Regions from separate parts of the Homo sapiens genome. Here region 2 is linked to region 1. The links come from fine-mapping of genetic effects on gene expression. A gene starts in region 1. The other region holds a variant in brackets. All regions are shown on one strand. Distances are from middle to middle. Region 1 holds the start of PLIN2 (perilipin 2). Region 2 overlaps SAXO1 (stabilizer of axonemal microtubules 1).

What was found. PIP is the estimated chance that this variant, and not a neighbour inherited with it, causes the effect.
Region 2: its variant is fine-mapped to the expression of PLIN2 in blood mononuclear cells (TOPMed, PIP 0.97).

The regions. Positions count from the first base shown.
Region 1 is chr9:19,125,001-19,130,379 of GRCh38, forward strand. PLIN2 (perilipin 2) reads right to left here and starts at 2,492. Exons shown (of 8, transcript NM_001122.4): 1 at 2,419-2,492; 2 at 1,397-1,448; 3 at 1,114-1,309. The coding sequence starts at 1,426. RefSeq lists enhancers at 1,738-2,248, 2,249-2,758 and a silencer at 2,271-2,830.
Region 2 is chr9:18,927,642-18,933,020 of GRCh38, forward strand. SAXO1 (stabilizer of axonemal microtubules 1) reads right to left here. Exons shown (of 4, transcript NM_153707.4): 4 at 9-1,414. The coding sequence ends at 411. Among named protein-coding and RNA genes, the nearest start is that of SAXO1, 100 kb to the right of the region's middle. The variant G/A (reference allele first, on the strand shown) is at 3,233.

The DNA.
Region 1 (5,379 bases):
TTTATAAGAAATATCCAGCATAGGCAAATCTATAAAGACAAAGTAGATGAGTAGCTGCCTCAGGGTGGTTGTTAGGAAATGGGGAGTGACTACTAAGTATGAGAGTATGAGATTTCTCATGGAGTATGACATTTCTATTCTTTATTTCGGTAAAATATACATAACAAATTTCACCATTTCAACCATTTTTAACTGTGCAATTCAGTGGCATTAAGTCCATTTACAACATTATACAACCATCACCACTATCCATTTCTAAAACTCATTCATGGCCAGGCATGGTGGCTCACACCTGTAGTCCTAGCACTTTGGGAGGCCGAGGCGGGCGGATCACCTGGGGTCAGGAGTTCCTGACCAGCCTGGCCAACATGGCAAAACCCTGTCTCTACTAAAAATACAAAATTAGCTGGGCATGGTGGTGTATGCCTGTAATCCCAACTACTCAGGGAGCTGAGGCAGGACAATCACCTGAGCCCGAGAGGCAGAGACTGCAGTGAGCAGTCTCAAATTCCAGGCCTCAAGCGATCCTCCCATCTAGACCTCCCAAAGTGCTAGGATTACAGGTGCAGGCCACCGTGCCCATCCTCTGGGGGATTTTTAATTAAAGGATCATAAACATCTGCCAAAGCTATGAAACAGGCCTTCTGTGGACAGGCGCGGTGGCTCACGCCTGTAATCCCAGCACTTTGGGAGGCAGAGGTGGGTGGATCACAAAGTCAGGAGTTAAGCCTGGCCAATATTGTGAAACCGCGTCTCTACTAAAAATACAAAAATTAGCTGGGCATGGTGGTGGGAGCCTGTAGTCCCAGCTACTCGGGAGGCTGAGGCAGGAGAATCACTTGAACCCAGCAGGCAGAGGTTGCAGTGAGCCAAGACTGCGCCACTGAACTCCAGCCTGAGTGATAGAGTGAGACTCCATCTCAAAAAAAAAAAAAAAGGAAAGAAAAGAAAAGAAACAGTCCTCTTACGGTAATGAGGGTCACCTGAAAGTTTCTAGGTAAAGGCAGTGTATGCCCCAGGAAGGGCTGAGGAGTTCCAGATGTTACTGCTGTGAGCTCAGGGGCTCGCCACTGACCAGTCCCTTGACTTGCATCTTGAAAAATCAGAACTCACTTTGCGGCTCTAGCTTCTGGATGATGGGCAGAGCACTGGTCATGGCCACGGAGGTGATGGTCTTCACACCGTTCTCTGCCATCTCACACACAGACTTCAGGTAGGGATACTGGTCCTTTGTACTGAGATAGGCTGAGGACATGAGGTCATACGTGGAGCTCACCAAGGGCAGGTTGACCACCCGAGTCACCACACTCTGCAATCAAAGTAGGGAGGGTATGCTTATTAATCTCTCAAAACACAAAAGGAGAGAAAGTAGACAAAGGCTACTCAAAATTCATACCGGTTGTGGATCAACTGCAACGGATGCCATTTTTCTTCCTGGAGAAAGAAATCTGCAGAAAAGAGACTTATTTCAGAACACCGGGATAAGACTCTCCCAAATTCATTCCCCAACCCAAGCAAATGCTGATTACAAGTAGAGAAAAATGCAGGGTGAGCTCCCTGTAGTCTTCTGCACTTCTTTCCTCTCTCCAGCTCTCCAGGTCCCCCTCCTGAAAGACCCACACCCACACAACCCCACTCCCTCTTTTGAGGCAAAGTTTCAGAGCTTATGTGTAAACTTGCAATACTCAGGAGGGAGAAGTAAAGTTGTTGACATACTTCTCTTGTTTCTCCGAGTATCTGTTAACAAAAATGCTAGCCAAGCCGGACGCGGTGGCTCACGCCTGTAATCCCAGCACTTTGGGAGGCCGAGGGGGGTGGACTGCTTGATGTCAGGAGTTCAAGACCAGCCTGACCAACGTGGTGAAACCCCGTCTCTTCTAAAAATACAAAAATTAGCCGGGCGTGGTGGCGGGCGCCTGTTATCCCAGCTGCTCTGGAGGCTGAGGCAGGAGAATCGCTTGAACCCGGGAGGCGGAGGTTGCAGTGAGCCTAGATGGCGTCACTGCACTCCAGCCTGGGCGACAGAGCGAGACTCCGTCAAAAAAAAAATGCGGTTTTCTAACGCGTTTCCCTTTCGATAATGTCCCTTCGACAAATATTGTTTTCCCACAACCACCCAAGCAGGCCAAGGGACATTCGATAGCAATCGCCCTAAATCTGTTGGCAGGAAAGAAGCCTCAACGCACAAAGGCAAGGGTCGAAAGCGCGGGTTCAGCAGACCGCCCCTACCCAGCCAGGACCTGGAAGCCGCGAGGCGAGCGGGGGGTCTCGGACCATCACCCCCGCGTCCCGTCCACCTTTGAGCCCCGCGGGGAGCAGAGCAGCGGTCCCAAGGCCCCGGGGAGCCCCCCACCCCAACTGGGCGCCGCTGGGGGCCCGGGACCGGTTCGCTGGGGCACCCACTGGGCGCGCACTCACCGACGGACTGCAGCGAAAGGCGAAGAGCAGGCGCGTCCCGAAGACGACTCCGGCTGCCACGACCCGGTCAAAGCGTGGGGCCCGCGGGCGCCCGGGCTATAAACCCCGCCTCGCCGCCCCTCCCCAAGCCTCCGCAGCACGTGACCCGCGGCAGCACGCCCTGTCCCAAGCCCGAGTGTCACCCTCGGGCACGTCCCGGCGCCCTCCCCCAACGCCGGCCCTCCTAGAGTGGTGGGGGCCCGGTCGGGTTGAGAGGGTGTGCTGCCTGGGCGAGGGGCCCCGCCACGGGGAGAGGAGCCTGTCGGGAGCCGGGCGGGGGCCCGGCCTGGGGAGGCTGGGAGTTGGAGGTAGCCCTGCCTGGAGTCGGGGCGCTGCCTGGAGTCGGGGCGCTGCCTGTGGTCGGGGTCCTGCCTGTGGTCGGGGTCCTGAGAGGCCCGGGGCAAATGGGGATGGCGCCCAGGCCGGCTTTGGGGTTTTGAAAAATGCAAACAAATTCACACCAACTTGTTGAACGGCGTTAGTCCTCAGAATAGAACTCTAAAAATGGAAGCGGTGGCTCACGCCTGTAATCACAACACTTTGGGATGCTGAGGCGAGAGGATCTGTCGAGCCTAGGAGTTCGAGACCAGCCTGGCGAAGATTTTTATTTTATTTTAAAAAATAGCCCAGCGTGGTGTCGTGCGCCTGTGGCCCCAGCTACCTGCGAGGCTAAGATGGGAGGATCGCTTGAGCCTGGGAGGTCGAGGCTGCAGTGAGCCGAGATCGCGTGGCGCTGCACAATGGCTTCTACGCTGTTATTTTTAGCGAAGTAATAACTTTTAAAAGTTTTGTGGCGGCTGGGCGCGGTGGCTCACGCCTGTAATCCTAGCACTTTGGGAGGCCGAGGCGAGCGAATCACCAGCCTGGCCAACATGGCGAAACCCCGTCTCTCTCAAAATACAAAGAAAGCAGCCCAGCGTGGTGGCGCGCGCCTGTAGTCCCAGCTAGTCCCGGCTGTTTAGCGGGGTTGGGGGCAGGCGGGTGGGTGGCTGAGGTGAAAGAATCTTTTGAGCCCAGGTGGTCGAGGCTGCAATGAGTCGAGATCGCGCCACTGTACCACTGCACCCCAGCCTGAGTGACTGAGACCCTGTCTAAAAAAAAAAAAAGAAAAGAAAAAAGAAAAAGAAAACAAAAAACTTAACTCCAGATCACTCCAGAATGACAGCTGCCTAGGGTTATGTGACATAGGCAACTTTATACGTGCAGGGTTATGCATTGTTTTTCAAAGACAACTTAAAACGTCATCTGAGTCCCAGTTGTGTTTTTTTGTTGTTGTTGTTTTGTTTGTTTGTTTCTTGTGTAAAACGCACAGATTTGGAACGAGATTATTTGAGCAGACAAGTTGCGCCAGCGCCCGAGGCCAGATAGGGCTCGTGGGACTTCTTCCCCCGTGAGTGGCGGGGGATTTCCAGATGAAGCTGTCCGGCCTCGGCCCCCACTCCCCCCCCCCGGCCCCCGACACAGCTCGCAGGGAGGATACAGCAGAGAGGAGGGTTGGGAGGTGGGAAGGGAGCAGGCGCTGGCGCCGCGGGTCCGCCCCCTGAGAGGCCCACAGCGTTGGAGTCCCTGGCTCCAGCCAGGAGGGACTGGCTTTGTGAAGCTTTGGAGTTGTAACTGTAGGAAGCTCTCAGAGACTTTTACCCCAATTTGTTTTCATTTTCTGTTGTTGTTGTTGTTGTTGTTGTTTTTTGAGACGGAGTCTCGCTCTGTCGCCAGGCTGGAGTGCAGTGGCGCGATCTTGGCTCACTGCAACCCCAGCCTCCCGGGTTCAAGTGATTCTCTTGCCTCAGCCTCCCGAGTAGCTGGGACTACAAGCGCGGGCCACCACGCCCAGCTAATTTTTGTATTTTTAGTAGAGACGGGGTTTCACCATGTTGGCCAGGATGGTCTCGATCGCTTGACCTCGTGATCCGCCCGCCTTGGCCTCCCAAAGTGCTGGGATTACAGGCGTGAGCCACCGCACTCGGTCTAACCCAGTTTCTTAACCAATCTTGCATGCACACAGATACTGTTGATCATATTTAAAGCTCCAAACGGACCCATTAAAATGGTATCCCTTATCCCATTATACCTGAATATATAATAGTACTTACTTAGCAAGAAAAATTAAAGTATTTTTACCCCTCCTCCCCACATGTAATTCAAAATAAAATACTAAGCCATAAATACTGAACCATAAAATGTTATGAAGTCCAAAAATGTTCTGGTTTGGGTTTTTTCCTATGTTGCCATCTTCAGTGTTTTAAGTAATTAAATTATTATGTTTTTCTTTTCTTTTTCGTGTTCCGGCGCTGTTTGTTCCCTAAGCAAATGTTTGCTCTGCTTATTGATAATCCATCCCTGCTCTAATGACCTCTTACTTTGCATCAGAAGACTCTCGCCCTTTCACCTACAAAATGCCTCCATCTTTTCCTTTTTTGTTTTAAACCTGTGAGTCATTTCCTCACTTAAGGCTGAGCAAGCTTCTTTTTGCTTTTATTTGCCTGTGAAGCAGAGGGCCCCAGGGAATAATTTTGGGAACAAGAGACTCTTCAAGCCCACAAAGGATGAAGCACATCAAATTCTGCATCCCCAACTGTTTTTCAGCTTCGTGAGTCTGAGAACATGAAACCAGTGGCAAGAATAACACCCAAGGTGAGATGTGTAGTGAAGGAAACCAAAAAATTTTACCCCAAAATATACTTCTTTCACATATTTTGAGATATGGCTGTTCAGAGGACCTGCAGGCGGAAGTAGTCCTACGAAGCTGTTTGGTGTGTGTGTGTGTGTGTGTGTGTGTGTGTGTGTGTGTGTGTGTGTGTGTGAGAGAGGCTTGCAATATACAGAGAAAATCTGCATTGATGCAGCCAGGTGCTCTCTGAGGTTTTCCCTCGTCCAGATATAGGAAAGGTTAATGGACAGTCTGACACCTTTAAAGGTCTG
Region 2 (5,379 bases), 200 kb before region 1:
AGCCAGCCTACAGATTCATTCCCCCCAAAATAAAATTTATTCTTTGGCGCTTCATACTTGGCAAGGGTTAATCATTATGTCAGTTCATACAATGATTAAATTAATAAAATACATCTGGATCAGAGAAACCCTCACAGACCAACTTTGATTCCATAAGCACAAAGTAAAGGACCTGAAACGGGGTGGGGATGCAGTAAAGGAGAAGGTAAGGGGAGTTAATTAGCCGGTGATTAAATGTCATTTTCCCTGAGTCAAGTGATTCTCATTTTATTCAAGTGCTCTGGAAGTGGTGAAGGTTTTTTGTTTTTTGTTTTTTGTCATTTTAGGGAATTCTTTTTTGTCCAACAAATAATTCTCAGTTGTCTGCTTTTAAAAGTACTGTGTAATTTCTAAATTACTATTTTTCAAAATCAGGCTAACACTTCCAACTCCCTCTGGTTGGGGTTTTCTGAATCATCTACAGAAAGATGGCTGCTCTGCTGAGAGCCTGCCTGGGAAACTGGTTTGTATATCCTGTGACCCAAAGCATCCACTTCCTCAAAGGTGTAGCCAGGAGGCTCAGGATATGAAGCTAGGCACCTGCCCATTTCCTTGGGAGTAAAGCTGATGGTGTAGGTGGTCTGGCTTTCCACAGGGACATTTCCTCGAGGGCCAGACCAATGAGGCTTACAGCTTTTGGTATTGATAGGCAGGTGGGGCACATAGTGGGCCCGAGTGGTGGTCAGGCAGTCCAGGGGCTCGGTGGGCAAGTCCAGCTGGGGAACGGGCTTGACTGGCTCTGTGCGCATGCTGGACCACTGCTTGTAGTCATCCTTGGTGGTGGAAGAGCCTTCAAAGCGACCGCACTTCTTAATCTGAAGTGCAGGTCGGCAGGACTGAGCTGGGGCACCCTTAGGGCATGTGTAATGGGCCTGCACTGTTGTCAGAAGATCCATCCTGTCTTCGGGAGGGACGTAGGTGATGGGAGCTTTGGAGAACATCCGGGGCATTGGCCAAGCTTGGTACTTATCTCGAAACTCAGTGGTGTTACAGAAAGGCATGTCTAGCCCAGGAGGCCTGGCTAGAGGTTTCAAGCTCTTGGCAGGCTCCCCCATCAGGCCCCGGTAGGATTGTTTTTGAGTGGTAAGGCTTTCAAAGGGGATTTCACAGGGCCTGAACTTCTCTGCTTCATGCACAAAGCGCTTCTCCACGGGGTGGGCCACATAGCTCATCTTGTAGTTAGTCACATCCTCCAAGGGGATGTTACAGAGCTTTGGCATGGCCAGAGGTTTACAGCTTATGGTCTTCACAAGGCCTTTTATGGGGTAATCGTCCTGGTGTGTGGTTCTGTTATCAAACCTGACTGATGCCGGCTGGTATTTGTGTTCCAGACGAAGTGGCTCTCGCCTTGGTTGGTTCCAAGGCAAATAATCAGCTGAAATTAAAGCAGAAGAGGTAATTAATAATAAATCAAGTCAACCAACTTGCATATATTCTACAGAGCCCCAAGGTCTTAAGGCAGTCTCCGATGAAGTGTTCTTTGAGACAAAGAAAGAACAGAGCACATCCCTGCTACCACTTCATTCAAACACCTGATGTGTCAACTTTATGGTACTTGCAGGCAGAAGAGACAAATCTACAGGAGCTCTCATCACACCCCACAATACTGCATGCAGGGATCTTAGAGGGTCCATGGTCGTGAGAGGATCCAGGGAATCCATTCCTGCAGAAAAGTTCAACCACTAGCTTACTCTGACAACACTTCCTTTCTTCTGTGGAGAAGGTACTTTCTCTGAATCAGCATGGAAGGAGTGAGAAGATGCATGTGATGTAGTGAGATAGAAAATTCACAACCCACCACTGGTGGGCCACCAGCCAGATGAACCAGGCCTACCTGGTCGTCTGTGGAGTGACAGCCCACTGTGTCCCTGTAATCCTCACATGTAATCCACATAAATCAAATATGCTGCTCCAAGGGAATAGGGCATTGTATTGGGTGGTGAGAGAACAGTGGCTGCCACTTATATAAAACTTATTACATAACAGGCAGTATTCTAAGTGCTGTATATATTAACTCACTTAATCTTCAGACTGTCCTAATAAGGTGGGTACTATTAATGCCAGTTTTATAGATGCAGAAACAGATATACAGAAAATGAGGGAATTTGTCCCAGCTCACTTGGCTAGAAGTGGAAAAGCACAAATGCAAATTCAGACCCAGAGCCCACGATCTGACCCACTCTACTCTCTGGTTCTAACAGTTAGGGAATACCAACTACATGTCGGTCAATTGTGCTCAAGTCTTTCCATACATGATCTTGTTTCATCTTCACAATAACCCTTTGTGATGGGTATGATTCTCTCCATTCTACAGATTTCTAAATACAAGGCTCAGAGGAGCTAAGAAACTTGCCCAAAAGTCACATGGCTAGTGAGGTGAGTTGGAATTTAAACCGTATTGTTGTCTCCAAAGCCATGTTCTTCTGATACCTCATATCACACTTAGGGGCATTTTATTTCCAGATGGAGTAAAGGTTAAAGAAAAAAATAATCAGAGGGAAGATTTTCAGGAGGAAAAGAACTTCAGAATGTTTGAAGAATGAGAAGAACTGGCCAATCTAGATGTCCATCTCCAGAGGAACCTCTGCTGTGGGGCTGGAATGGCCAACATAATGGGAGGCCTGGACCCCAAGGAAATCTGCAGTAGAGATGGCCTCCATGCATCTTGAGGACCAGATACTGTCTTCAGGCAGCACTGTAAGCCTTTGAAACTGGCTTTGCCACACAGACCATCAGGGCCAGCACACCAAGACTGAAAGTCTAGGTGAGAAAAATGGGATGACAAACCATGTGATTCAACTGCCTTGGCACTGCTGGAACTTTTTTTTTTTTATTTGAGATGGAGTTTCACTCTTGTTGCCCAGGCTGGAGTGCAATGGCACAATCTCAGCTCACCGCAACCTCCACCTCCCAGGTTCAAGCGATTCTCCTGCCTCAGCCTCCCTAGTAGCTGGGATTACAGGCATGTGCCACCGCACCCGGCTAATTTTGTATTTTTAGTAGAGACGGTGTTTCTCCGTGTTGGTCAGGCTGGTCTCGAACTCCCGACCTCAGGTAATCCGCCCACCTCGGCCTCCCAAAGTGCTGGGATCACAGGCGTGAGCCACCACGCCCGGCCTACTGCTGGCATTCTTTCAAAATACTTGACTAACATCCAAGACCTAGGTTGCCCCATCAGGCCCATAAATTACCA[G/A]ATTTAAATTAGCCCTAGTGAGCCCTCTGAATCTATAGGGAATTCTCTTGCTTACTGCTGTACGAAAGGTTAGAAAAAAAAGCTGCTTCCCAGGAGCCTTGGGTATACACACCAACACTAGTGGAGTCCGCAGGCACAATTTGTAACAGTTTTATTGAAATCTAATTTGCATAATAAAAGGTACCATCTGAAGTACACAATTTAGTGACTTTTATGGAGTTGTATATCCATCACCAAAATCAAGTTATAGAGTATTTGCATCATGCCAAAAATACCAATTATCTTCATTTGTAGTCAGTCTTTACTCCCATCTCCAGCCCCAGGCAACCATTAATTTGCTCTTGGTCTCTATAACTGCGCATTTTTTGGACATTTCATATAAATAGAATCACCCAATATGTAGCGTTTTGCATCTGGCTTCTTTCACTTAGTGTAATGTAATTGAGGTTCATCCATAATGTAGCCTGTATCAGTAGTTCACCTTTTTATTGTTGAATAATATTATATGATACCAAATTTTGTTTATCATTCACCAATTGATGGACATTTTGAGTTGTTTCTACTCCTTGGCTATTATAAAGAAATTCTGCTATGAGCCTTTGTGAAGAAGTCTGTGTGTGAACATATATTTTCATTTCTCTTGGGTAGATAATAAAGTGAAATTGCTAGGTTGTATAGAAAAATCTATCTTTAGCTTTTTAAAAAAGATACTGCCAAATGTTCTCAAAGTGGAGAAGTAGATGTGCCATTTTACATCCCACCAGCAACGTATAAACATTCTCATTTCTCCACATCCTTGTCAATATTTGTTATCATCTGTGTTTTTAAATTATTATAGACATTCCAATGGGTATTTAGTAGTATCTTGCAGTGTCATTTACATTTCTCTAATGACTAATGATGTTGAGTATCTCTGCATGCACTTATCCGCTCTTCATGTGCTTTCATTGGTAAAATATTGAGATGTTTTGCCCATTTTAAAATTAGATTGTCTTCTTATTGAGTTATAGAATTCTTTGCATGTTCTAAATACAAATCTTACACCAGGTATGTGATTTACAAATTTTTTTCCAAGTCTATCACTTCTCTTTTCATTTTCTTATTATTTTAACAAAACACCCACCTGACACCTGACTCTTTTCATTTCTTAATGGTGTCTTTCTAAGTGCCCAAAGGTTTTGAATTGCGATAAAGTCCTATTTATATCTTTAATAAATCATGCTTTTGATGCCATGTCTAAATTCTTTGCCTGTCCCAAGATATCATAGATTTTTCTCCCATGTTTTATTTTGAAACATTTATAGTTTTAGCTATTACATTTAGGTTTCTGACTCTTTTGAGTTTGGATGCGGTAACTTCGTCTTTTTGCATGTGGATATCCAACTGTCCCAGCACCATTCATCAAAAAGACTATCCTCTCCCACACTGAAGTGCCTAGGCATCTTTGTGAGAAGTTAACGACAATAGACATAAAGGCTTATTTCTGTACTCTCAACTTAGTTGCATTGGTCATTATACTTGTCTTTGTGTCAGTATAACTGTCTCAATTGCTGTAGCTTTATAATAAAGTTTTGTAATCAGGAAGTGTAAGTTTTACAACTTAGTTCTTATTTTTCAAAAATACTTTCAGCTATTCTGGTTTATTTGGATTTCATATATAAAACCTAAAATTACTTTGCCAAGTTCTAAAAAGGAAAAGGAGCCTTCTGAGATTTTGATAGGAATTGCATTGAATCTACAGATCAATTTGGGACAACTTTACCTTAATAGTATTGAACCTTCCAATCCATGAACACAGAATGTCCATCATTTTTGTTCAGATTTTAATTTCTCCCAGCAATCGTTGGTAGCTTTCAGCATGCAAGACTTACACTTGCTTTTTTAAAATTTTATTCCAAGATTTTATTAATTTTGAGGCTATTAAAAAGAGAACAGTTTTCTTGACTCCATTTTGATTGTCCATGCTAGAATACAGAAACAACTGATTTTTATATATTGTTCAGTACTGACATCTCGCTGAACTCATGTATTAGTTCTGGTAATTTTTTGGATTCCTTGGTGTTATCTGCATACAGGATCATGTTGTCTGAGAATAAAGACAGCTTCGCATTTTCCTTTTGAGCCTAGATACATTTACTTGTCTGCTT